Linked DNA regions of Homo sapiens: all the other regions are linked to region 1. Evidence: fine-mapped expression QTL. A gene starts in region 1. Each other region holds a variant in brackets. All regions are shown on one strand. Distances are between the middles of the regions. Region 1 holds the start of GIT2 (GIT ArfGAP 2). Region 2 has its middle 7.1 kb from the start of TCHP. Region 3 overlaps GIT2 (GIT ArfGAP 2).

Region 1 (8,179 bases):
GAAGGGATTTTAAGGAGCCTGAGAACCCGTGATTCTCAAACTTTGCTAGGTATCAGCCTCCCTGGGGAGTTTGTTAAAAATGCGGCACCTGGACCTCACCCCAGACCTATCAATAGAGTCAAGTGTTGGGTTCTGCCCCAGCACCAACATCCTCATTCTACAGCTAAGTTAACGTCGGCCAGAGAGGGAAAATGCCTTGCCCAAGGTCACAGGGCGAGTTAGAACCTGGACTCCAAAACCAACCAAGCCCTTCCTTACAACAAGGAGAGTGTGCTATTCTTACGTCTTTGAGGCAGCAGAACCTAAAAATGGTTAAGACGGTGCATTCCGGAGCCAGCCGGCCCGAGTTAAAATCCCGACTTGGCATTTATCAGCGGGGCGGCCTCGCACAAGGCACGTAGCGTCTGAGGACCTGTTTCCTTCTCTGTCCAGTGGAAAAGTAACAGTACCTACCCACCAGCGTTATTGGAAAGGTGAAGAGAGAAGATATTTAAAAAGCCCGTCGCACGGTAAGCACTCGATACGTGTCCTATTATTAGGACTGTCCCACACCTGCAAAGTGGAAGGGGTCTGGGGATCCCGGGGACAGAGGGCTGGAAATGGGCTCAGGGAGGCGAAACGACCCCCGATTCCCCGAAGTCCCCACCGGGAGACGGACCCCCGCCCCGCCCCTCACCTGGCCCTGCAGCTCCTTCTCGAGCTGCCGGTAGTCGTTTTTCCAGACTAGGAGGTGCAGGGGGTAGTGGTCGCCCGCGTCGCAGGCCGAGGACATGGCGAGGAGGCCGTAACCTGGTCCTCGTCGCCCGCCCCAAGTCTCGGCCCCGGCGGGGTCTCCCGCGCCCGCCTGCCTGCCCTGAGGCCGGCGAGCAAGCGAGCGTAGGGCGTGTTACGCTGCCGGCCGGCTGAGCCGGTCGGGTGCGGGGCGCGCGGGAGGTCCGGGGTCGCCGGCCGGCTCAGGGACCAGGTCGGCCGCGCCCACCCCGCGCCCCGCGGCGTTCCCGCCCGCGCTGACAGCTCGCGGACAGACTTCTGCGGACCTAACTGCCCCAAACAGGGAAGTGCGGAGAGCGAACCACCGCATGCCGCGGCGGGGATAGGCGACCTTGGGCACCGGGTCCGGGGTCCGCGCCATTGCACCCACCTCCAGCTCACACCGAGAAACTCAGTGCAGCCCACAGAACAGAGCTGAGGCTCATTCTCTTGGCCAAAGATCTCCACGCGGAAAGTTCCGTCTACCTGTCCCCAGCTTCTTTCCCCCTGCTCCAGTAGCCCCATGTGGTTCGGTCCACAACTGGGCCTCTTCCATTGGCTCTGAAGTCAGGGGGTGACAACTGAGCCCCGGACCAAACCATTCCAGCTGCCGACACCCTTGCAGCCTTTTTGGAGCAGGACAGATGCTTCCACGACGGGTCAAAAGCCATTTTGGAAGTGGGCAACACCGGACAATTTTTGAAGGAGGAACGCTAAACCCTGGCGAAGTGGCTTCAAATACAGTATTTGCATAAAAGGGGATATTTCTACTTCATGATTTCTCAACCTCGGCACATATTGAACTGGGCAGTTTTTGTGTGGGGGTTGTCCGGTCCTTGTAGGATGCTGAGCAGTTGCCCTGGTCTTTCTCCCCACTCAATGCCAGTAGCACTCCCCAAAACATGTCTCTCCAGATATTGCCAAATGTCGTCTCGGGGAGAAAAATCGTCCTCAGTTGAGAACCGCTTCTATTTGAACTCCGAACCGGGTTATGATTCAATAGCTAACTATGGTGGTGATTTAGTCCATGTATGAATGTCATTTTTAAGCTAGCTTTTTGGATTTGAGGTTATGGCTGAAAGGACTGATAAATAATATACATATTTGACCACAGTCTGCGAATATGAAGTTTATTCTTTGAGTTTCAGGCACTATGCCTCCTTGACTCAATGAAGAACCAAATCAACTTACAGCTAGCTACTCATGGGCTTGAACTTTCTGCTGCTGCTTCAGCTCAGCTGTCTACAACTAGACCACATAGCTGGATGAAGCTATTTAATGCATTGTGAAAACATTCCCTCTGCCCTCTGAGTGTATGCACATCCAGCTCTTCAGATGCCTGCAACAACAGCTGTTCAAGAATCCCAACCTAATCCATTCTCCACAGATGTGGAGCCCAGAAGATTTGTGAGTTGTTAAACCAAAACAGGATGCAGGAGCACCAGGATGGCACCCGGAGACTCTAACCATGGAATGCGTGGGAATTCTGTGATTATTTCTCCATCACACATTTATCACACTGTAGAGATGGACTCAAGACCAGTGCTTCTGAGGCCTTTTCCAGCACTTCTCATTCTTTCAGATGCCTTTTGCAACTTAACGTTCTCCTTCTTCTTCATCATGCCGTGTTTATTGAAAATCTCCCTATCTCATTAATCAGAAAACCCCATAATGACAGGAACCACATCGTTTTGCTTACCAGAGTATCTAAAACCAAAATAGTACCTGGCTAACAACAGGCATTCAATATTTGCTGAATGGAGATCATAGCTGTGTTTATATGTAAGACAGACAATAAGTAGTCATTGGTATTAGGGTCACATCTCCTTTCTCCTTCACACTGATTTACCTCATTTCATTGTGTTTATCTCACACCATTTTGTAAATTATCCCATGTTAGCTATTGTTATTCTCAAATTCCACGCATATGAAGAAAAACAGTAATTAGAAAATAATAGCAATATCCATAATTATGGGAGCTACTATTTACTGAGGGGTTACTATCCAGCAGGTGTATCACATTTTTCCCATAATTTATTCCATCTGTCCTTAGCCAAAATGAATGTTTAACTTTGCTGGTCACATACAAGTTTTGTCGCATATTCTTCTTCCTCTTTTTCTTTATTTCCCTCTCTCTCTTCTTCATTTTCATCTCGCAACCCTTTAAAAATGTAAAAATCATTCTTAAGTAGCAAGCCATACAAAAACAAATCGTGGACTAGAAGTAAACAATGCATTATCTTAATTTTGAACATGAGATTAAAACTGAAGCCTAAGGAATCATCTAATATATTCTTTTTTGTTATTTTTGTTGTTGTTGTTGAAGTTGTTTTTGAGACAGTCTCGCTCTGTCCCCCAGGCTGGAGTGCAGTGACGCGATCTCTGCTCACTGCAACGTCCACCTCCCAGGCTCAAGCGATTCTCATGCCTCAGCCTCCTGAGTATCTAGGATTACAGGCATGCGCCACCACGCCCGGCTAATTTTTTTTTTTTTTTTTTTTTTTTTGAGACGGAGTCTCACTCTGTCGCCCATGCTGGAGTGCAATGGCGTGATCTCAGCTCACTGCAACCTCCACCCCCTGGGTTCAAGCTCCTGCCTCAGCCTCCCAAGTAACTGAGATTACAGGCTCCTGCCACTGTGCCCGGCTAATTTTTGTATTTTTAGTAGAGACGGGGTTTCACCATGTTGGCCAGGCTGGTCTTGAACTCCTGACCTCGTGATCCACCCGCCTCGGCCTCCCAAAGTGCTGGGATTACAGGCGTGAGCCACCGCGCCCGGCCAATTTTTGTATTTTTAGTAGAGATGGGGTTTCACCATGTTGCCCAGGCTGGTCTCGAACTCCTGCCTCAAGTGATCCTCCTGCCTCAGCCTTCCAAAGAGTTGAGATTACAAGAGTGAGCCACCACGCCCAGCCTGGAATCATATAATATATTCTTATTTTACTTTACCCCAGTAAAATGCAAGCTTCATAAGGACTAGAAATTCAGTCTTTGCTCACTGCTGTTTCTCCAGTGGCTGGGACAGTATATAAAGCATGGTAAGTGCTTGATAAACATTTGTTGAATCAAGGAATGAATGAATGAACTTGACCATTGATTGCCTCAGGAAGGTTGTGGCTGCAGGGTTCTCATCACAAGATATTGCTACTTCCCCTGGTATTAATCAGTTGGGACGAGGGGAATCTCTGCCAGAGAAGAAGACCCAAATTCAATATTTAAAGGTAGGACAGATGATACTCGGGCAGTCTCCTGCCCTCACTCAAGATGGCGACAAGGCAGAGTGCCCTTTCCGGTCACATGACCTGACACTCGCCGAAGGGCACCTCCCCGCGCGTGCGTGCTGTGCCAAGGCTGCAAGGCGCTGAGGGGAGAGGCGCCGCCGTCAGCGCCGCCGCAGCTGGGACCCGTTAGAGCGGAAGCGCCGCCGCCACCGCCGCCTTTGCTGTCCCCCGGCCTCTAGTTCCCCGCAGGTGGGAGGTGGGAGCCATGTCGAAACGGCTCCGGAGCAGCGAGGTGTGCGCTGACTGCAGCGGGCCGGGTGAGTCGCACCGGCCGGGCCCGCTCCCCTCTGCTTTCCTGGCCCGGACCCCTACCCCGGGGCCGCCCCCTCAGGTCAGGCTGCATCCCGCGGCTAGGGTCGCAACGAAGAGGTCCCTGGGCGGCCTTGGGGTGGGAACCGTCCCGGGCCTGTCAGAGCCGGGCGGGCAGGGGGCCGCCGCCCTCCCCGTCCCTCGCGGCCCTCCCTTCCCTCTCGTTCCCTCCCGTTCCCTCCGTCCTAGGCCAACTGGGGAGGTGACGGGGGCCAGGGCTGCTCCCCCAACAGGAAGGGGCTTGGGCAATCCACAGGAAAGCCAATTACAGAAGTAAAATGTGAGCGTCCTCCCGGCTGCAGCCTCCAGAGGCTGCAGGTGTCACCTCCCACTAGACCCTTTCTCCGCCTGGGTGTCCTGCCCGGGGAGGATGACACTCCCTGAGACTCGCCAGAGGGTCCCCGTAGATGACTTCCCCGCTGCTGACATCCGACAGCTACTCTGCCCGGGAGAATTGCCAGGAGATCGGGGTCTTCCAAACACAACCAGCACTTAGGAGGCAGTGCTTGTCTCAAGTTTGAGGATCTGAACGGCCTGGGTTCAAACTAGATTTTGCTTCTGGCTGACCTTGGGCTGGTGACTTCACTTGGTCACTTGCTTGATTTCCTCATTTTTTTCAATGAGGATAATCGGGAGTATCACGCTTAGTGGTGAGGAAGATTCAATGAATACTCGTAGAATCATATCATCTAAGGCTTTTCTTTTTTGCATTATGCTGTCTACAGTAGAACTCTTGTAGTCCCTTAAAGCTATATTTGACTATCTAAATCATACGTTGATTACAACGGAAACAAACGCAAAATCACCAGCAATATAGGGGCATTGAAACGCTAAAGCCATTCCTTCATAATGATGCATAACTGTTCATACATAATATTCACATTTAGAGATCAAGTGTGTCTTAGCAATTGCAACTGAATTGTCAGGTCTCTGGATAGATTATTACATGCTGTTTTAGGTGCTTGGATGTATTGGCTTTGAGTTAATTCGAAGGTAACATGGCTTTCTTGGCACAATAGTGTCCGATAAACAATCTTAATTAAATCATTGAACACCACTGGCTTTGCAACTGTTCTGATCTTAAGCTTGTCATTTGGAAGTGGAGACCAATTGTAAATAGAACTGTGATAACTCAAACCTCATGTGGTTGTTTTATGGCCCGTACAGTGCAGGTGTTACCAGTTTCCTTTGAAGATAGGGAGGGGGTATGGAGGAGTTTAAAAAGAAGTGTTTTCTAAACCAAGTTAGTGTGAGTTATACAAACTCCATCATTTTCTCTAAAAATGTTATTTGTTCCACTTCCTTATTTTCTTGCCTATTTTCAGTTGAACTTACCGTGATGTATTTGATTCACATGTGTCTAGCTTCTAACTTCCTCTTGGAATGCATATTGTTTTGCTTCTTGATAGGGTACAGGGCAAAGCAAAATTGTTCCTCCATTGCCATCCTAAATATACTTTTGCAGCATTTTGTGCATTTCAGAACATTTTCTCTTCCATTGTATCGCTTTAGTTGTTGTCTCATACGCCTAATCTGCAGAGACTTGAGTCACTTCCTTCCTGTTTTGAATATAATTAGGCTACCTTGAAATATTCTGTGAAATTGAGCAGCTGGGAATTTGTGCTGCCTTTTCTGCACAGCCCTACTGAGAGAATTACCTGTAGGGTTAGGGACCCCTTTGAGATTCTGTTGAATGCTAAGGCCTTCTCCCCTAAAATGCACGTGAACGAATTTACCTAAGATTTGTCTGGGGGAGTCACAAACATTTTTGAAGTTCATTTGTGGTGTCCCTGGAGCCCTGGCTCCAGATGAACTTAAAGGGTTTTACCCAATCTCATTCATACAAACATTTTTATTTTACTATGTTAACATTCTAATATTCTTTCCATGGGATTCTGATCCAGGATGCTAAAGTGGTTAGTCGAATACTTGTCTTAATTAATATGTGTTAAATACTTGCTAAAAAAAGAATACTGCAAATCCTCTGAATAAGTGAAAACCAAAGCTATGCTTCAAAACAGTCTTTTTTTTTTTTTTTTTTTTTTGCCATTAGTGTCAGTACTATACTGCAGGAAGCAGTGTTGTTAATGCATCTTTGTAGAGCTCCTTCATCTGGACATTTCCAATCTCTGCTTTTTAGGATGATACAGTAATAGCGACAGAGTTATACTAAATTGAATTATTTTGATTCTGTTTTATTTTATGCAAACATTTAACCATGATCACATCTTCTTAAATATTCTACTTTTTTTTTTTTAATGAATCTGGTTCATTTCAAATACATCACACTCTGAGTTCAATTACTTGAAAACTCCATGGAGATTTTCAGTACAGTAGTAGAGTGGTCACATGAAATGTTCAATGTTTTAAGTATTTCCCATCAAAAACTTTGTCCAGTGATCATGAATTTCACGTCTAGAAAATATCTGAATACTGAGAAAATAATTTAGAAAAGATATAACAACTAACATTACTACTTTACTATGTGTGAGGTACTTCACTTATTCTCTATATCCTTACTATCCCGAGATTTGTCATTGTTCTCATTTGAACCATGGTGAAAACACTCAAGTAACTTGTCTGAGATCATTGTGCAAGAAGTGGCAGAGTTGGGGTTCAAACCCTGAACTCCTTGTCTCTAGAGCCAACCCTCTTAACCACCATACTCACTGGCTCCCAGGATTCGTCTTTGATTGAAAGCCCATAACTTTTCATTATATGGTTTGAAAGGGTTTGAATAAACTCTTAAAAAATGGTAAAGATGGTGTACATGCATTTTAGAGATTTTTGTGGACATTGAAGAATTTTTAAATGTAACCCTTTGACCAGGCAGCTTAAGTGGCACCTATTGTCACCCCATTGTGAGTCTGACGAAGTATAGCTCTTTCTTTATTTGAGGTTTCTAGGTATTCAGTTTACTTACCCAGATCCATCCTGCTTGCCAAGTATGAAATTATTCCTTGTTTCAAAGGACAGCTAATGAAGCTCTATGACTTTAAAGGGAAAAAAGTATTATACACACACTAAAAATATTATTCATTTTTATTTTACATCTTTGCCTCTGTGAAGCTGCTGTTATTGCAACTTCTTTTTTTTTTTTCAGATCAGTTGCAGGATTGGACTTGGTAGTTTATGTAAAACAATTAATTGGCTGGGCACAGTGGCTCAAGCCTGTAATCCCAGCACTTTAGGAGGTCGAGGTGAGTGGATCACCTGAGGTCAGGAGTTTGAGACCAGTCTGGCCAACATGGTGAAACCTCGTCTGTACTAAAAATAACAAAAATTAGCCGAGCTGGTGGCACACACATGTAATTCCAGCTACTCGGGAGGCTGAGGCAGGAGAATCGCTTGAACCCTGGAGGCAGAAGTTGCAGTGAGCCGAGATTGCGCCACTGCACTCCATCCTAGGGGACAGAGTGAGACTCTGTCTCAAAACAAACAAACAGACAAACAAACCAATTCATGGACATCATAGAACATTTCCTAATGGAAGAGGCCAGGTTTCCCTGTCCTCAGAACCATAGCAGCTGAGTGATTTTATGATTCTGTAACTCGCAGCTTTCTGCTAAGCATATTGACATGTTGATTCATAGCAGTGAATTAGGACAGCAGTCTACAACATTTACTGCAGAAAATGCTATCTGCATAATTCACTGTCAAAATTATATTATCTTGGCCGGGCACAGTGGCTCACGCCTGTAATCTCAGCACTTTGGGAGGCCGAGGTGGGCGGATCACCTGAGGTCAGGAGTTTGAGACCAACCTGACCAACATGATGAATCCCCGTCTCAGCTAAAAATACAAAAATTAGCCGGGCGTGGTGGTGCATGCCTGTAATC
Region 2 (8,179 bases), 100 kb after region 1:
ACATCCTCACCGGCCCCCACAGTTCAACTCTGAACCTCTTGATTACACAGCTGCTGGCTGTCGCTATTAAGCAACTTTACAAGTGCCTTTTCCTTTGCTCCTCTTGGGCATTCTATGAGATATCTTATTGCCCCCATGTTAGAATTGCCTAAACTAAGCCTCGAAAAGGTGGCATGGCTTGCCTGAGGAGCCGCAGCTGATAGGTGGTTGAGCCATGATTTGAAACCAGTTCTGCCTGATCCCAGTGCCTAAGCCCTCTTGCTGCAACACAAGAGCAGGGATCATCGTGTTCCTTGCTGCATTCCCCATGCCATGCCTTGTATGTGGTAAGCACTCTATCTATCTATCTATATATCTATATCTATCTATATATATATTTGAGACAGAGTCTCACTCTATCACCCAGGCTGATGGAGTGCAGTGGTGCGAACTTGGCTCACTGCAGCCTCTGCCTCCCAGGTTCAAGCAATTCTCTTGCCTCAGCCTCTTAAGTAGCTGGGATTACAGGTGCCCGCCACCACGTCCGGCTAATTTTTGTATTTTTTTTCAGTAGAGTTGGGGTTTTGCCATGTTGCCCAGGCTGGTCTTGAACTCCTGACCTCAGGCATCAACCTCCCAAAGCGCTGGGATTACAGGCATGAACCACCATGCCCGGCCTCAATCAATATTTGTGTTGAGAATGAAAAAGTGAATGGATCCCCTATTTTGAGTACTTTCTTCTCCTCCAAAGGAAAAAGGAATCTATGGTGTTAAGAGAAAGCAAAAAGAAGAAAAGGAACGAGCATTTCTTGAACACCTGCTATGTGCCAGGTGCTTTGAGATATATTATCTCATTTAAGCCTCCCTCCAACCTGGGAGGAGTTTGTTCCTGCCCCCATTTTGCAGATGAGGGCGCTGAGGCTCAGAGAGGTGAATCAACTCTCTTGAGGTCACACAGCAAAGACTATAAAAGCCAGGATTTACAACAAACCTCTGAGACTGTGAATCCCTCTTCAGTGTGTTTTTCTGGGAGCTTGTGGCTTGCAAGTGTAGCTCTTAAAAGAGGCCTGCGGCCGGGCACAGTGGCTCACGCCTGTAATGCCAGCACTCTGGGAGGCCAAGGCGGATGGATCACTTGAGGTCAGGAGTTCGAGACCAGCCTGGGCAACATGGTGAAACCCCATCTCCACCAAAAATACAAAAATTAGCCAGGTGTGGTAGTGCGTGCCTGTAGTCCCAGCTACTCAGGAGACTGAAGCAAGAGAATCACTTGAACCTGGGAGGTAGAGGTTGCAGTGAGCCGAAATCATGCCACTGCACTCCAACCTGGGCAACAGAGTGAGACTCCATCTCAAAAAAAAGAGGCCTGCAAATGTGAACATACAAAGAATTTGGCAATATGAAATATTCAATGACAGGTCAATGACTACGGCGTGCAGGGGGCTGAGAGGGAAAGCCCTGGTAGGAACCCGCAGGTTGGAGCTGCTCCAGGACTTGTGATTTTAGGTATCCTAGCATGGGAGAAGAAAACAAGAACAGGGAGAGGGGGTGACACTATGGGAGCCGCTCTCCATTAGATGAAACATGACAGTACTGGAAGCCGCACAATGCCATCATTTAATTAGCAGGTACCGTTGTGAAGGTATGACATTTCAACACCAACCACTCCAGCTTCTTGCTTCACACCCCACCCCACCTGAAGACAAGACCGCAGAAGTAGACAGGTGGGCTCAAAGACCCTGGGGCTACTAGGCTGCTTCTCAGAGCCCCAGCTTTGTGTTTTAAAAAAATAACAATGGGGTCAGGTGAGGTCATTCACACCTGTAATCCCAACACTTTGTTTGGGAGGCCGAGGAGGATCGCTTGAACCCAGGCATTTAAGACCAGCCTGGCAATATAGAGAGACCCCCCACCCCATCTCCACCCAAATTTTTTTTTTTATTAATCGGGTGTGATGGTGCACACCTGTGGTCCCAGCTACCTGGGACGTGGAAGTGGGAGGATTGCCTGAGCCTGGGAAGTCGAGGTTGCAGTGAGCCATCATTGAGCCACTGCACTGCAGCCAGGGTGAGAGAATGAGACACTGTCTCTGAAAAAAAAAAAAAAAAAAAAGTAATTCTTGAACCTTGAACCATACCATTACTTCAGCTGGGGAACTGTAGTGAATTCCTGTAATTTTATGTTGCCTGGGCAACCATTTTGAATATTTTAGACTTTCTCATATAAAAAGCAGGTCTCAGTCAACCCTTGACATAGTCCATTCTCCACCTCCTCCCAGTTCCTCAAGGTGGTCAACCCAGGTATCTGTCTTATGCAACTGCTGACCCCCTCCCTATGGGACAGCTGAAGACAAACTACTCGACTCACCCCCCGACCCCACCCCCTGCCTGGATGGCACAGTCATGCTGCAGTGACCAGTCCTAGTCACAGTGTGACCTCCTGGAACACATGCCCACTAGCTCTAAACCCAACAAGTAGAACTCCCTGAGGGAAACCTGCTAGGGGAATGCCCTGGACTCCAACAAAGTCTTTTTTTTTTTTTTTTTTTTTTTGGGACAGAGTTTCGCTCTTGTTGCCCAGGCTGGAGTGCAATGGCGCGATCTTGGCTCACTGCAACCTCCGCCTCCTGGGTTTAAGCGATTCTCCTGCCTCAGCCTCCCAAATACCTGGGATTACATACATGCGCCACTACGCCCAACTAATTTTGTATTTTTAGTAGAGATGGGGTTTCTCCATGTTGGTCAGGCTGGTATTGAACTTCTGACCTCAGGTGATCTGCCCACCTCGGCCTCCCAAAGTGCTGGGATTACAGCCATGAGCCACTGCACCCGGCCTTTTTTTTCTTTTTTTTTTTTGAGACGGAGTCTTGCTCTGTTGCCCAGGCTGGAGTGCAGTGGCACAATCTTGGTGGCTCACTGCAAGCTCGGCTTCCCGGGTTCACACCATTCTCCTGCCTCAGCCTCCTCAGTAGCTGGGATTACAGGTGCCCACCACCACGCCCGGCTAATTTTTTTGTATTTTTTAGTAGAGATAGGGTTTCACCGTGTTAACCAGGATGGTCTTGAACTCCTGATCTCGTGATCCGCCCGCCTCGGCCTCCCAAAGTGCTGAGATTACATTTTTTTTTTTTTTTAAGACTGAGTCTCACTCTGTTGCCCAGGCTAGAGTACAGTGGTGTAATCTTGGCTCACTGCAACCTCCACCTCGTGGGTTCAAGCGATTCTCCTGCTTCAGCCTCCCTGAGTAGCTGAGATTATAGGCACCTGCCACCATGCCTGGCTAATGTTTGTATTTTTAGTAGAGATGGCATTTCACCATAGTGGCCAGGCTGGTCTTGAACTTCTGACCTCAAGTAATCCACGTGCCTCAACCTCCCAAAGTCCTGGAATTACAGGCATGAGCCACCGTGCCTGGCCTCCAATAAAGTCTTTAGCCCATATTTCTCTCTCTCTCTGTCCCCATTGGTTAAGCACACATGTCCCAAATAGCTTCCCATTTCCATTGGCTATGCAAACCCTGCTCGCTGCTCTCTGGATCTGTGAGTAATAAACTGCTTCTGCTATTTTTGTTGAGTTGCTCCCTCTGTGTTTCACTCGACCAACACACCTGAACTCAATGCTCACCCCTCCCGGTCAGGCTCTCCTAGAGAGTGGCTGTCTTGTTTGGAATAAACTGGATATAGGTGAAACAAGAGCCACAAGGGCATCAGCCGATCTCAACATGTTTCCTGGGAGAAGGACACCTGGTCATGGGTCATGGGACACTTTGGCATTAGGCAAGCCACCAGCATAAAGAAGTATCCTGTGAAAGACACATGATAAACATCCAACTTCCTCCCCAGAGCTAGAGTTCTCTCTGGGGACTGGGCCCAAGAGCAATCCTTGGTGACAAGATGCCCTGCTGGATCTGATGCTCACAATTTTTTTTTTTTTTTTTTGAGAAGGAGTTTCACTCTTGTTGCCCAGGCTGGAGTGCAATGGTGCAGATCTCAGCTTAATGCAGCCTCTGCCTCCCAGGTGCAAGCGATTCTCCTGTCTCAGTCTCCTGAGTAGCTGGGATTACAGGCATGCACCACCACACCCAGTTAATTTTGTATTTTTAGTAGAGACCATGTTTCACCATGTTGGCAAGGCTGGTCTTGAACTCCTGACCTCAGGTGATCCACCCACCTCAGCCTTCCAAAGTGCTGGGATTACAGGCATGAGCCACTGCGCCCGGCCTGATGTTCACAATTTAAGACCACAGGTTCCAGCTTGCTGAAGCTCACCCCACCCAAAGCCCTTGCTTTATAGAGGAGGAAATGGGGGCTCAGAAATGGGGAGTGTGTGCCTAAATGAGGTAAGTGGCAGAGCCAGCGTGATAGTGAAAGCAGCTGGTAGACTCCGTGTGTAGAGGCAGAAACTGAAGCCACAAAGAGGAGGAGACTCAGCCAACACCTGCTTACCAGTTACTGAACCTTGATTGTCCTGTTCCTGGGTGACCACCTTCATCCTCACAGTGTCTCTAGGAGTATGAGTTAGAGTAACCCCACTGAGGCTTAGAGTAGTTGGGCAGAGCACTCTGATGGTCTTTACAGTGCATCAGGGTTCCCATCCCAAATCCCGCACCAATTCCCTTCTGCTGGGGTGTCAGGTATGGGGCACAGTCCACCAAAATGGG[GC/C]ATCAGGTCAGTCCTGTGTTTTCTGTGACTTTCCTGCCCACAGGCACCCACTGGCCATTCCTGGATGACAGACAACCTCTACTTCCTAAGTCCCAAAGTTCAAGATGACTGGTAGACCACATCAGAGCAGTTCCATCATCTTCTCAGCCTTGAACCTTCCATGGCTCCCCATTTCCCTTGGCATGAAGCCCATACCACTGTGTCCAGCCTGGTCTGGTCCCCTGCTGACATCACTGGCCACACTGGTCATTTCTTTATCTCTCACCACCACCTTTCCTGCTATGCTGTTCCCTCTGTCTGGAAGACCCTTCCCCTCTGCTAACTCCTACTCAGACTTCAGGATCCCAGTGTAAATGTCCCTTCCTTGGAGAAGCCCTCCTGATTCCCTCTGACCAGGTCACTTGGTGTCAGGACATACTGTATTTTTCTTCCATAGCTTTCATTGAAGCATTAAATAAATGATTTTTTTTTGAGATGGTATCTTGCTCTGTTGTCCAGGCTGGAGTGCAATGGCACAATCTCAGGTCACTGCAACCTCCACCTCCTGGGTTCAAGCAATTCTCATGCCTCAGTCTCCTGGGTAGCTGGGACTACAGGCATGCGCCACCACGCCCAGCTAATTTTTGTATTTTCAGTAGAGACAAGGTTTCTACTGAAACCTTGAGTAGAAACTTTGAGACAAGGTTTCTACTTGCTGAGGCAGGTGGATCACCTGAGGTCAGGAGTTGGTAACCAGCTTGGCCAATATGGTGAAACCCCGTCTCTACTAAATATACAGAAATTAGCAGAGCGTGGTTGTGCATGCCTGTAATCCCAGCTACTCAGGAGGCTGAGGCAGGAGAATCATTTGAACCTGAGAGGCAGAGTTTTCAGTGAGCCTAGCCAAGATCTCGCCAGTGCACGCCAGCCTGGGCGACAAGAGCAAAACTTCGTCTCAAAAAAAAAAGCAAATATTGGGGCTGGGCACAGTGGCTTACACCTATAAACCCAGCACTTTGGGAAGCCAAGGCAGGTGGATCACTTGAGGTCAGAAATTCAAGACCATCCTGGCCAACATGGTGAAACCAGTCTCTACTAAAAAAAAAAAACCCAAAAAATTAGCCAGGTATGGTGTTGCGCACCTGTAATCCCAGCTACTTGGGAGGCTGAGGCAGGAGAATTGCTTGAACCTGGGAGGTGGAGGTTGCTGTGAGTGGGGAGATTGTACCACTGCACTACAGCCTGAGCGACAGAGTGAGTGAGACTCTGTCTCAAAAAAAAAAAAAAAGGAAATATTAAGAAAGCCCATTACTATATCTTCTCCTTTAGTTAGAACTGACCATAGCACATTTACTCACTCAACTACACAGCATTAGAAGTACCAATAAAAATAAGCGAAAGTTACAATTTTCCTATAGAGAAGGATGTTTAAACTGTGCTTACTATAAAATTAATTCAGTGAGGAACTTTGGTCTTTAGATTTTGCTTCAAAATTAAACCTAAGTGTTCCCATGGAATCAAAACTGTACAGGTAGTTTACCATAGAGGTACAAATTCCAATGTGATTTGTTTTGTTTTCCGTATTCAAAACATTTTCACCCAGGGAAGTTAATAAGAGAAGAAAGGAACAAATACCCTAGGGGTTCAAAACCATTACCCGGACTCGTTAGCTGCCAGGCAGAGGCTGTGTGCTAATGCCTGTCCTCATTTTTGAATGCTCAGATTCATACATGATTCATTGCCATTAACACCACCAGTCTGTGAGCTCCTTGAGAGAGCTCCATCTTTGACCCCACATTGCCTGGCAAAGCCTGGTCTGAGAGAAAAGTTCCAGTAGTGATTGCGGAACTGAATGGAATGAAAAAGGTCAGCTGAGCACGGTGGCTCGTGCCTGTAATCACAGCACGTTAGGAGGCCGAGACAGGTGGATCACCTGAGGTCAGGAGTTCAACACCAGCCTGGCCAACGTGGTGAAAGCCGGTCTCTACTAAAAATACAAAAATTAGCTGGGCGTCGTGGCATGCACCTGTAGTCCCAGCTACTCGGGAGGCTGAGGTGGGAGAATCGCTCGAACCTGGGAAGCAGAGGTTGCAGTGAGCCGAGGTCACGCCACTGCACTCCAGCCTGGGTGACAGAGTGAGATCCTGTCTCCAAAAAAAAAAAAAAATAGAAAAAAGAAAAAGGTTGGCTTGCTCTCTCTTTCTTTTTGGGACAGGGTCTTGCTCTCTCACCCAGGCTGCAGTGCAGTGGCACAATCATGGCTCACTGCAGCCTCTATCTCCTGGGCTTAAGCAATCCTCCAGCCTCAGCCTCCTGAGTAGCTGGGACCACAGGCACATGCGCCCCCATGCCCAGCTAACTTTTTTTTTTTTTTTTTTGTAGAGATGAGGTCTTTTGTGTTGCACAGGTTGGTTCATTTTCATGTTTCTTCAATTTAATGATAATGGTAGTGTGCTATGACACTGTCTTAGGATTGTGACACAGTCAGGCTTCCTTAGAACAGTTTATCCATGTGAGACTACAAAGGCCAGGCCCTCTCAGCCCCTGAGGCTGCCCCTGTAGATGGAGGACAAGGTGGCATTCTCCCTCTTCTCTGTGCTGTTAAAATGATCAAAATACTATTTTTATCCAGTAACTGAAAAAATGTCCAAAACTTGGCTGTATCCCACTTGGGTGTTTCCTGGGATGACAGCAAGTGGGCCTGTTGGCGGGTGCGCCTTCGCATTAATTAGGGAGAGGCGGCAGACGGGCCCCAAGAAGCAGCAAGGAGAATTGGCATGGTGGCTCTTAACACCCAGAGGAGTTGGCTCAACAAAGCCCATTTGGCACATTTAGTCCTGCTGAAAACCTGGCAGTTGGGGAGGTGACATCACTGGAATCAATTATCCCCACAATTGCCAGTCCTGGGTAGAAATAACTCCGTAAATCGATTCATAATAGCCACACCATTCATCGAGGGCTGCCTGCCTGCCAGCATGCAAACTGCTCTATCTACATTAACCCATTGAAATCTCACATCAGCCCTGACAGGGAGTTAGCATTGCTACTGTCCTAACTTTACAGATGAAACAACAGAGGGAAGATTTACACACACACAGGAGAAGCTCACATGAAGATGGAGGCAGAGGCTGGAGTGAGACAGGAATGCCTAGAGCCACCAGAGGCTGGAAGAGGCAAGAATAGATTTTCTTCCAGAGTCGTCTTTTTTTTTGAGATGGAGTCTCTCTCTGTCACCCAGGCTGGAGTGCAGTGCAGCAGGCTCACTGCAAGCTCTGCCTCCTGGGTTCATGCCATTCTCCTGCCTCAGCTTCCTGAGCAGCTGGGACTACAGGCGCCCGCCACCACGCCCGACTAATTTTTTGTATTTTTAGTAGAGACGGGGTTTCACCGTGTTAGCCAGGATGGTCTCGATCTCCTGACCTCGTGATCTGCCTGCCTCGGCCTCCCAAAGTGCTGGGATTACAGGCATGAGCCACCGCACCCAGCCCAGAGTCGTCTTTTACTTTTAATTTTGTAGAGATGAGGTCTTGCTATGTTGCCCAGGCTGGTTTCAAACTCCTG
Region 3 (8,179 bases), 65 kb after region 1:
GGATTACAGGCATGCGCCACAATGCCCAGCTAATTTTTTTGTATTTTTAGTAGAGACGGGATTTCACCATGTCGTTCAGGCTGGTCTCAAACTCCTGACCTCAGGTGATCCGCCCGCTTTGGCCTCCCAAAGTGCTGGGATTACAGGCGTGAGCCACTGCGCCCGGCCGACAGTTTTAATTATAATAGTTTTGAAACTAGACTTGTTACAAAGGTGAAGTGCATAAGTTGCTTATGACAATCTATTCAGAAGCCAACTTCATGGTTTAAAAAATGGGGAAAGGGCTGGACACCGTGGCTCACACCTGTAACCCCAGCACTTTGGAGGCTGAGGCAAGAGATTCACTTGAATCCAGGAGTTCAACACAAGGCTGGGCGACATAGTGGGACTCCTCTACAAAAAAATATTTAAAAATCAGCCAGGCATGGCGGTGCATGCCTGAAGTTCCAGCTACTTGAGAGACTCCAATTCTAATTTTAAGGAATTTTTTCAGTCCTTTATTTTTCACTTCTGTGGCCTTTTGCATGGAAATCCTTTCTCTTTCTAGAAATTGGGACGATGAAACACATGAGAAGTAAATGACTGACGTGAGGAGGGGTGAATTATGTTTCTGTACTGTTGTGTGGCCTCACCTGACCAAGAGTGTATGTTGCCATATTTCATACCTGGAGACTTTTCATCAGATTGAACTTTTAGGAAGCAATGAGAGTCCTGCTTTATAACCATGTGCCCTCTGGTGGTGTGGGATGCACGGCTGACTGCAGCCCTAGCCCCTTCATGAAGGGAATGTAAACAGAATCTGTTCTAGCACTTGAGTCCTCTTTGCCTCCGAATCATTTTTACTGTCATTGAATAACTTCTTCAATATTCTTGCAGTTATATTCCCTGCTCAGAGAGGATACACGTAGCTGTTACAGAAATGGCAGCATTATTCCCCAAAGTAAGTCACTTCCTACTCACTTGGTTTAAATCCTTTTAAATGAACAGCAAGAAATTTCTTTATGACCTATATATTACATTAGCTTTTTTGTAGCACATGCAGTTTTAAAATATGCAGTCGAGGCCGGGTGTGGTGGCTCACGCCTGTAACCCCAGCACTTTGGGAGGCCGAGACAGGCAGATCACCTGAGGTCGGGAGTTCGAGGCCAGCCTGACCAACATGGAGAGACCCTGTCTCTACTAAAAATACAAAATTAGTCAGGCGTGGTGGTGCATGCCTGTAATCCCAGCTACTCAGGAGGCTGAAGCAGGAGAATCGCTTGAACCCAGGAGGCGGAGGTTGCAGTGAGTCAAGATCGTGCCATTGCGCTCCAGCCTGGGCAACAAGAGTGAAACTCAAGTCTCAAAAAAAAGTAAAATAAAATAAAATATGCAGTCGTATAGAGCTTTGAAATATTTTTGTTCTGCATGAATGTTGATTTAATAAGACAAGGATATACAAGTCGTGCTAAAAGGCACATTTTAAAATTTATAGGATTTTCTGGAATATTTTACCCACATGGATTAATATTTTTCAAAAACTACTTCAAAATACCACATACTACTAAAATTACCCTGCATGCACTTTGACCTTTGAATCAGAATATTTCAGCATCTCTTACGCTGTGGGCTGCAAAGCTTGGAGTGTGTGAAGCACCCCTTTGAGAAAGGGCAGGACCAAACCGCCTTTCACTCTGGGGAGCAGCTTGGTTTGCTTTAGAAGAATGTTTGTCCCCTGCTTTTGGATGTCTGCCCTGCAGTTCAGGGTAAACGGCTGTCTTTTTCCTTTTAGAAACCCAAGTCTGATATGGTGAGGACTTCCCTTCGTTTACTGACGTCCAGTGCCTACCGACTGCAGTCAGAGTGCAAGAAGACCCTCCCAGGGGACCCCGGCTCACCCACAGACGTTCAGCTGGTCACGCAGCAGGTCATCCAGTGTGCGTACGACATCGCCAAGGCTGCCAAGCAGCTGGTTACCATCACCACCAAAGAGAACAACAACTGACAAGGGCAGGGCACCGCCTCCTCTGTTTTCTAGGCTTTATAAAGTCCAATTTCAAATTCAGACGCAGAACTCTTCAGATTTCTACAAAAAGAAACATTTAATGACGGTTTAAAACTTTTTAAAAGAAAACTCAGTATTATTTTTGCATGTTTTCTAACCAATTTTCAACTATTTAACCCACTTGCCTTATTTTGTGCCTATTTGCTGGTTTAGTTTCTGATGTTCGGTTGTGTTGTCAACAACTGTTGAGTTGATCACATACATCCAAAAGTATAGTTTCATTGTCTAAAGTTTGTGAAAACTTTTCCATCCCTTAAAACTCCCTGCCTATGGCTGAAACTATAAATGAAATTTTTCATAAAACATTTTCTTGAGAGAGTTCAGTTAAAAAAGAAAAAATCAGCGTCATTTGTTCCCTGCCAAGCATCGTGCAATAAGTGAATTTCCTGGCCTACTTCATAATCTCTAAGTTTGGGGTATCTCCAAGCATGTATGTAGAGAAAGGACTTTGCCGCTTTTTAAAACTAGTGTCACAGTCTCTCTTGGGAGGAAACAATGAATTGGTTCATTTCTTCTCAGTGTTTTACCCTGTTACATGTTCTGTTATTTAATGTTGTTATCTCAAGCTCCTATCTCTTGATGTTTTCTTGTCATCTTGAAGGCTCCATGGAATGAGATAAAGCATTGACCCACCACAGGACATCTCATGAAGCCATGTTCAGGGTAGGAGCTCCACGCACATCACCACCCATTGTCAGGTGCTCTCCCTCACCCCTGTAAGCCAGACAGTTTGTTCAAAACCTGCAGCAAAGAGAAGCATCAGTCTAACAAGCCAGAACTCATTTTGTGCCACCCATTTAGGTATCACTACCATGAACTATAGGGAAAAGAAATCACCTACTCCCTGACACTGTGTTGTACCCTTCATCCAAAAGTCAGCTTGCTTCTCTGACCACTTACAGCTTTCTCACATGAGTTGCTTCACATTTTTCATCATCTTTAAGGACTTCTTATAAGGAAAGATGTATCGTATCGCAGTCATCTGAGTTAGTTTCTCCTCCATCACCTCATGAGTACTTAAAAATTAGACATCAACTTTCAAGAGTTCCTTAGAGAGTGTGCTCTAGCTGGCTGCCTGCTACCCCAAAGCTCTGAAAGAGTAAGGTTGAAGTGCTGGAACATGCTCAGATTGTTTTTTAGTTACTCAAAAGCCCCTTCTTGTTCTGAATGTGAAAGCTCTTCCCGTTCCTGCTTACTGCAGCCATTCTGTGTGTGTGGTTCAGACCCTGGCCTAGGGCCGGTGATGTGGATGAGTGAAGGGAGCCAGGTACACGGCAGCAGGGCAGAGGAGACTATGGGGAGCCCACCGCCTACACAGTAGGGGCAGTAGCCCCCAGCTCCACGCCTGTTGCCATGTGGAAAAGTGGGCCTAGGGTGGCCACAGCTTTGATTTTTCAAGAGACAAGAAACCTAGATGTTTTTTGGTGCCATCTCTCCATTTATAAATGTTGGCAACCAATTTGAACACTTTCAGAGACCATGTGCAGGTGAGCTGTGTCCTCTAGGCTGCCAGCTCACAGCCCCCACCCCAGGGCCCTGTAAGCTGTGCAGTGTGAGGGCCTGGCTTCCCCGGACACACCTGGAGCAGCCTCTGAGTCTTACCCGTAATGGAGCCGGCCAACCCTGTGTGTTATGTTGCTGTCGCTCCTGTTTTTAACCATATGTTCTGTCCCATAGCAGTCATTCACACATGTGAAGAAGACACAAGAATCAAAGTACAAGTTGCCTCAATACATGCTAATAACTAAGCTTCTATTTTCACAGGACTGATCGATGCACACCTTTATAGCTTGACCATATGCTGTCATGAAAGTAGCACCCCGACGGTGCTTGCTTTACTAAGTCACCGTGTGTGGATGCTTTTGTCGCATTTTGCTTCACTGTGAGTAGCATGGGAAAAGGGTCCACGTCTCCAAAAGACTCTTCCACTTGTTTGTCCCACAGCCCTAAGTGCCACATTGCTGTTGGATGCTCCCGGGATGCCTTCTAGAAGGGGGCCTCCCACCTTAAGTTCAGGCGCCATCTGATAGCCTTTTCTGCAGGCTTCATGTCCTTAGCTGACCCTCCTTTATCTTGCAAACCCCTGCCCCTGCTGTCCCAGGGAGGACGGGCTTCTGTAGAGGCTTCTGGGAAATGAGCTGTCTGCAGGAGGTGAAGCAGTGTTTTCCTTGGAATGTTTGAGGACCTGCAATAGAAGATGTTGCCTTTATGGCCCTAGAGAAAGTCAAGGAACATGGGGACCAACAAAGCATTTCCAGTTGTAAGAATATGTCAGAAGAGTGCTCGGTTAGCCCACGGTGCCAAAACTCCAAACAAGTTCCCCGGTGGAATGACGTGGCCATTGGAGGGCTGCAGGTCGTCCTCTCTGTATGTGCCCCGCGCATTTCCTTGGCCTCATCTGAGATCTGGTGTCAGAGTTCTCTGCTCCTGTTGGCAAATCGCACCTTATCTGAACATTTGTTCCAGCCACCTTTTGCACATGGATTCCGTACCTTGCACTAGCAATGTCTACCTTCAGTAACGTCGTTCTTTTTCACCCTGTATTCTCAATGATCCCTTCCTCCCCATATGCCACCCTTCCCCCAAAGCTGATAGGGCAGAGGTGCACTTTATGAAACTGGCACTTGACTGAACAGAAGGAAACAGCTGTACCTCTAAGCTCCTTTCACAGAAATCGTCATCTGCCTTGGAATGCAAATAGTTCTTATTTGCCAAAGAACAGTGAATTGGGCCCAAAGATCAAACACAGCATTTCATGTAATCAGAATTCTAAACGCACAACTCGGGAGCTGTGCACGGCTTCTCAAGTGATTCAGTTGCAGAACCAAGAGCAAAACTCGCCTGTTTTTGTCCTCAATGGCACCCATGAGCTTTCCAATAGTATAGTTTTCTTTCTTTCCTTGTCCTGGTTGAAGGTAACGTGTTCCTAGAAAAGAAAATGCTGCATAGGAAAACTGAGATGCCTTTTATTCCAACGTGTTTGATCCCTGTCACTCATTATTCTGTACTTTTTATTGTACATTCTATTCCTGTAATTATTGTGCCCTTTAAGTGTTGTAAAATCGTTTTGGAATTTGTGCCTGCTAGTTATGCA[A/G]TAAACAGGCTCTACAAGTGTTTTTGTGGTAATGCTGTGCTCCCCATCAATTAGTTGATGTTTCCAGATACTCTGTAAAAGGTCTGAGGAAGTTCTCCCAAAACGCCATCATTAGTGAGATGCAGTGTTTCATATGCTTTGGGGCTCTGCAGTTTTACAGTAATGACTATCTTTTTCTTCCTCTGTGCTTAGCAAATAGGTTTTGTTTTGTTTTGTTTTTTTGTTTTTTTTGAGATGGAGTTTCACTCTTGTTGCCCGGGCTGGAGTGCAATGACGCGATCTCGGCTCGACGTGATCTCGGCTCACCGCAACCTCCGCCTCCCGGGTTCAAGTGATTCTCCTACCTCAGCCTCAGAAGTAGCTGGGATTACAGGCATGCACCACCCCACCCGGTTAATTTTGTATTTTTAGTAGAGACAGGGTTTCACCATGTTGCTCAGGCTGGTCTTGAACTCCCAACCTGAGGTGATCTGCCCGCATCGGCCTCCCAAAGTGCTGGGATTACAGGTGTGAGCCACGGCACCCAGAGCAAATAGCTTTCTTTGAACGCTGCATCAAGATACTAGTTCCATGCATCTTATCATAATATATTTATTCCCTAAGTTTAATGTTTTTTTCTTTTGGAGAGAGGATCTCACTCTGTCACCCAGGCTGGAGTGCAGTGGTGTGATCTCAGCTCACTGCAACCTCCATCTCCTGGGTTCAAGCGATTCTCGTGCCTCAGCCTCCCAAGTAGCTGGGATTACAGGCATGCACCACCACCCCTGGCTAATTTTTTGTATTTTTAGATATGGGGTTTCACCATGTTACCCAGGCTGGTGCGAACTCCTGGCCTCAAGTGATCCACCCGCCTCGGCCTCCCAAACTGCTGGGATTACAGACGTGAGCCACTGTGCCTGGCCCCTACGTTTAATTTTTTTAATGCAGCGAAAGCCAGCCCAGCACAGATGCCCTCCCTTCTTCCTAACAGGTGATGGGGTCCTGGAATGAGCTCAGTGTCTTAAAACCACTGGTCTTATTTTATTTTCAGAGAAAGGCCACCTGTGCAGGTTCCTAGGGGGAGCTGGTATAGATTTGCATGGGGGTTCATCAGGGCTGCCCATGGTCACCAGTGATTGTCCTCTGGTTAGGTGACTTGGGACTCTACTCCCAAATGGAAGAAGGGTGGGGTAGGGCCTGAGCACCACGGGTACTTTTCCAAGTGAGAAGTCAGAAAGATGCCACGTCCTCGCTGTGATCCTGCTTGTTCAGGGGGACGTCTGTGCAGGCTTAGGACCAGTGTCTCACACAGCTCACACCCAGAGCAACCTCCTCAGGCAAGGAGGCTCAAAAGAGCCAGCAGCAGACCTCCTGGAACCCTGGCAGGCTCACCATGCCGGGCCCCCACAGTCTGGTTCAGCAGCTCTGGGGTGGGGCCCAGGAGTAGGCACTTCTAACAGGTTCCAGGGACCACACTCTGCGAAGCTCTGCTGTAGACCGTTTCCAGGCCTTTCCCACCACACAGCTCCTTGGCTTCTGCTTTTAAACATGTTTTAGTGTAGGAGAGTCATGTGAAGTCATCATTATAATTTTAGCTGACATTTCCTCTGTGCCAGGCACTGTGCTGAGTTCTTTTTTTTTTTCTTTTTTGAGACAGGCTGGACCGTAGCAGCGTGATCTCAGCTCACCACAACCTCTACCTCCCGGGTTCAAGCAATTCTCCTGCCTCAGTCTCCCGAGTAGCTGGAACTACAGGTGCGTGCCACCATGCCCAGCTAATTTTTTTGTATTTTTTTTAGTAGAGACGGGGTTTCACTATGTTGGCCAGGCTGGTCTCCAACTCCTGACTTCATGATCTGTCTGCCTCGGCCTCCCAAAGTGCTAGGATTACAGGCGTGAGCCACCACGCCTGGCCTGTGCTGAGTTCTTGACACATGTTCATTCATTTCATCCTCACTACAGCCAGATGAAGTGAGTGGTTTCTTCCCATTTTTCAGATAAGGATGTTTACAGCCCAGGAGGCCGAGCCTCACATCCAAGGAGAGAGTGTGTCAGTTGCTGTCATGCTCCTTACTCCTCTTCACCACCAGGGTGCGCTTCCCAGCCTCCGGCGGAGTCACAATGTTACAGGATCTCTGGGGTGTCGATTTTTCTGGCTGGAAATATCTGGCCAGTGCCTTTGCCTGAGTTCTTGTTGTCCTGCATCCTGGAAGAATGAGGTACGCAGACAAGTGGAGGGTGAAGACTTTTTTTTTCTTTTTTTTTTTTTTTTTTTAGACAGAGTCTTGCTCTGTTGCCCAGGCTGGAGTGCAGCGGTGCAATCTCGGCTCACTGCAACCTCCACCTCCTGGGTTCAAGCGATTCTCCTGCCTCAGCCTCCTGAGTAGCTGGGATTACAGGCACGTGCCACCATGCCCAGCTAATTTTTGTGTTTTTAGTAGAGACGGGGTTTCACCATGTTGGTCAGGCTGGTCTCGATCTCCTGACCTCGTGATCTACCCACCTCAGCCTCCCAAAGTGCTGGGATTACAGGCGTGAGCCACCATGCCTGGCCAAAGATTTTTATTTAGTGTTAGAACAGCTCCTCTCTGTAGGCAGGTCGTCCCGTCAAGTGTTCAGCTGTCAGCAGAGAGGAGGCCCTGGAGAGGGTGGCTCCTCTCCACAGGCAAGTCATTCGGACGTCTCTGCAGGTCTCTGAAGCTCTCAGTAGAGAGGGTAGCTCCTCTCTGCCAGCAGGTTGTCTCTGCAGCTCTCAGGGGAAAGGGTACTACTCCTCTCTGCAGTAGTAGAGGAGTCGTCCCATCATCTGCAGCTGTCATCAGAGAGAGCACTCCTCTCTGCAGCTGGTTGTCCCGTCATCATCTCTCCGCCCTCTCCATCCTCTGGTCTGCTCTGGCTGAGCCCAGGGCTTTTATGGACCACAGGGGGAGGAAGTGCCTGCCGACTGGTCCATGGGTGGCCATGGGCAGGCCCGTAAGAGGTACCACAAGTCCCCACTCAGGTCTGCAGGACTGGCAGCCTGGCCCCCAGCCTTCAGGCCCCCCCTGGCCTGTAGGTGAGGC

Evidence for each region. PIP is the estimated chance that this variant, and not a neighbour inherited with it, causes the effect.
Region 2: its variant is fine-mapped to the expression of GIT2 in blood mononuclear cells (TOPMed, PIP above 0.99).
Region 3: its variant is fine-mapped to the expression of GIT2 in whole blood (TOPMed, PIP 0.99).

What each region holds. Positions count from the first base shown.
Region 1 is chr12:109,992,282-110,000,460 of GRCh38, reverse strand. It overlaps GIT2 (GIT ArfGAP 2), which reads left to right and starts at 4,093. Exons shown (of 20, transcript NM_057169.5): 1 at 4,093-4,288. The coding sequence starts at 4,237. ANKRD13A (ankyrin repeat domain 13A) reads right to left here and starts at 1,031. Exons shown (of 15, transcript NM_033121.2): 1 at 677-1,031. The coding sequence starts at 772. RefSeq lists silencers at 818-907, 918-1,037, 4,353-4,442 and enhancers at 1,118-1,307, 3,923-4,082, 4,773-4,822.
Region 2 is chr12:109,889,118-109,897,296 of GRCh38, reverse strand. It overlaps a transcript of TCHP not described here. Among named protein-coding and RNA genes, the nearest start is that of TCHP, 7.1 kb to the left of the region's middle. RefSeq lists a silencer at 5,420-5,479. The variant GC/C (reference allele first, on the strand shown) is at 4,639.
Region 3 is chr12:109,926,783-109,934,961 of GRCh38, reverse strand. GIT2 (GIT ArfGAP 2) reads left to right here. Exons shown (of 20, transcript NM_057169.5): 19 at 877-940; 20 at 1,772-5,158. The coding sequence ends at 1,984. Among named protein-coding and RNA genes, the nearest start is that of TCHP, 31 kb to the right of the region's middle. RefSeq lists enhancers at 1,135-2,334, 8,031-8,179. The variant A/G (reference allele first, on the strand shown) is at 5,139.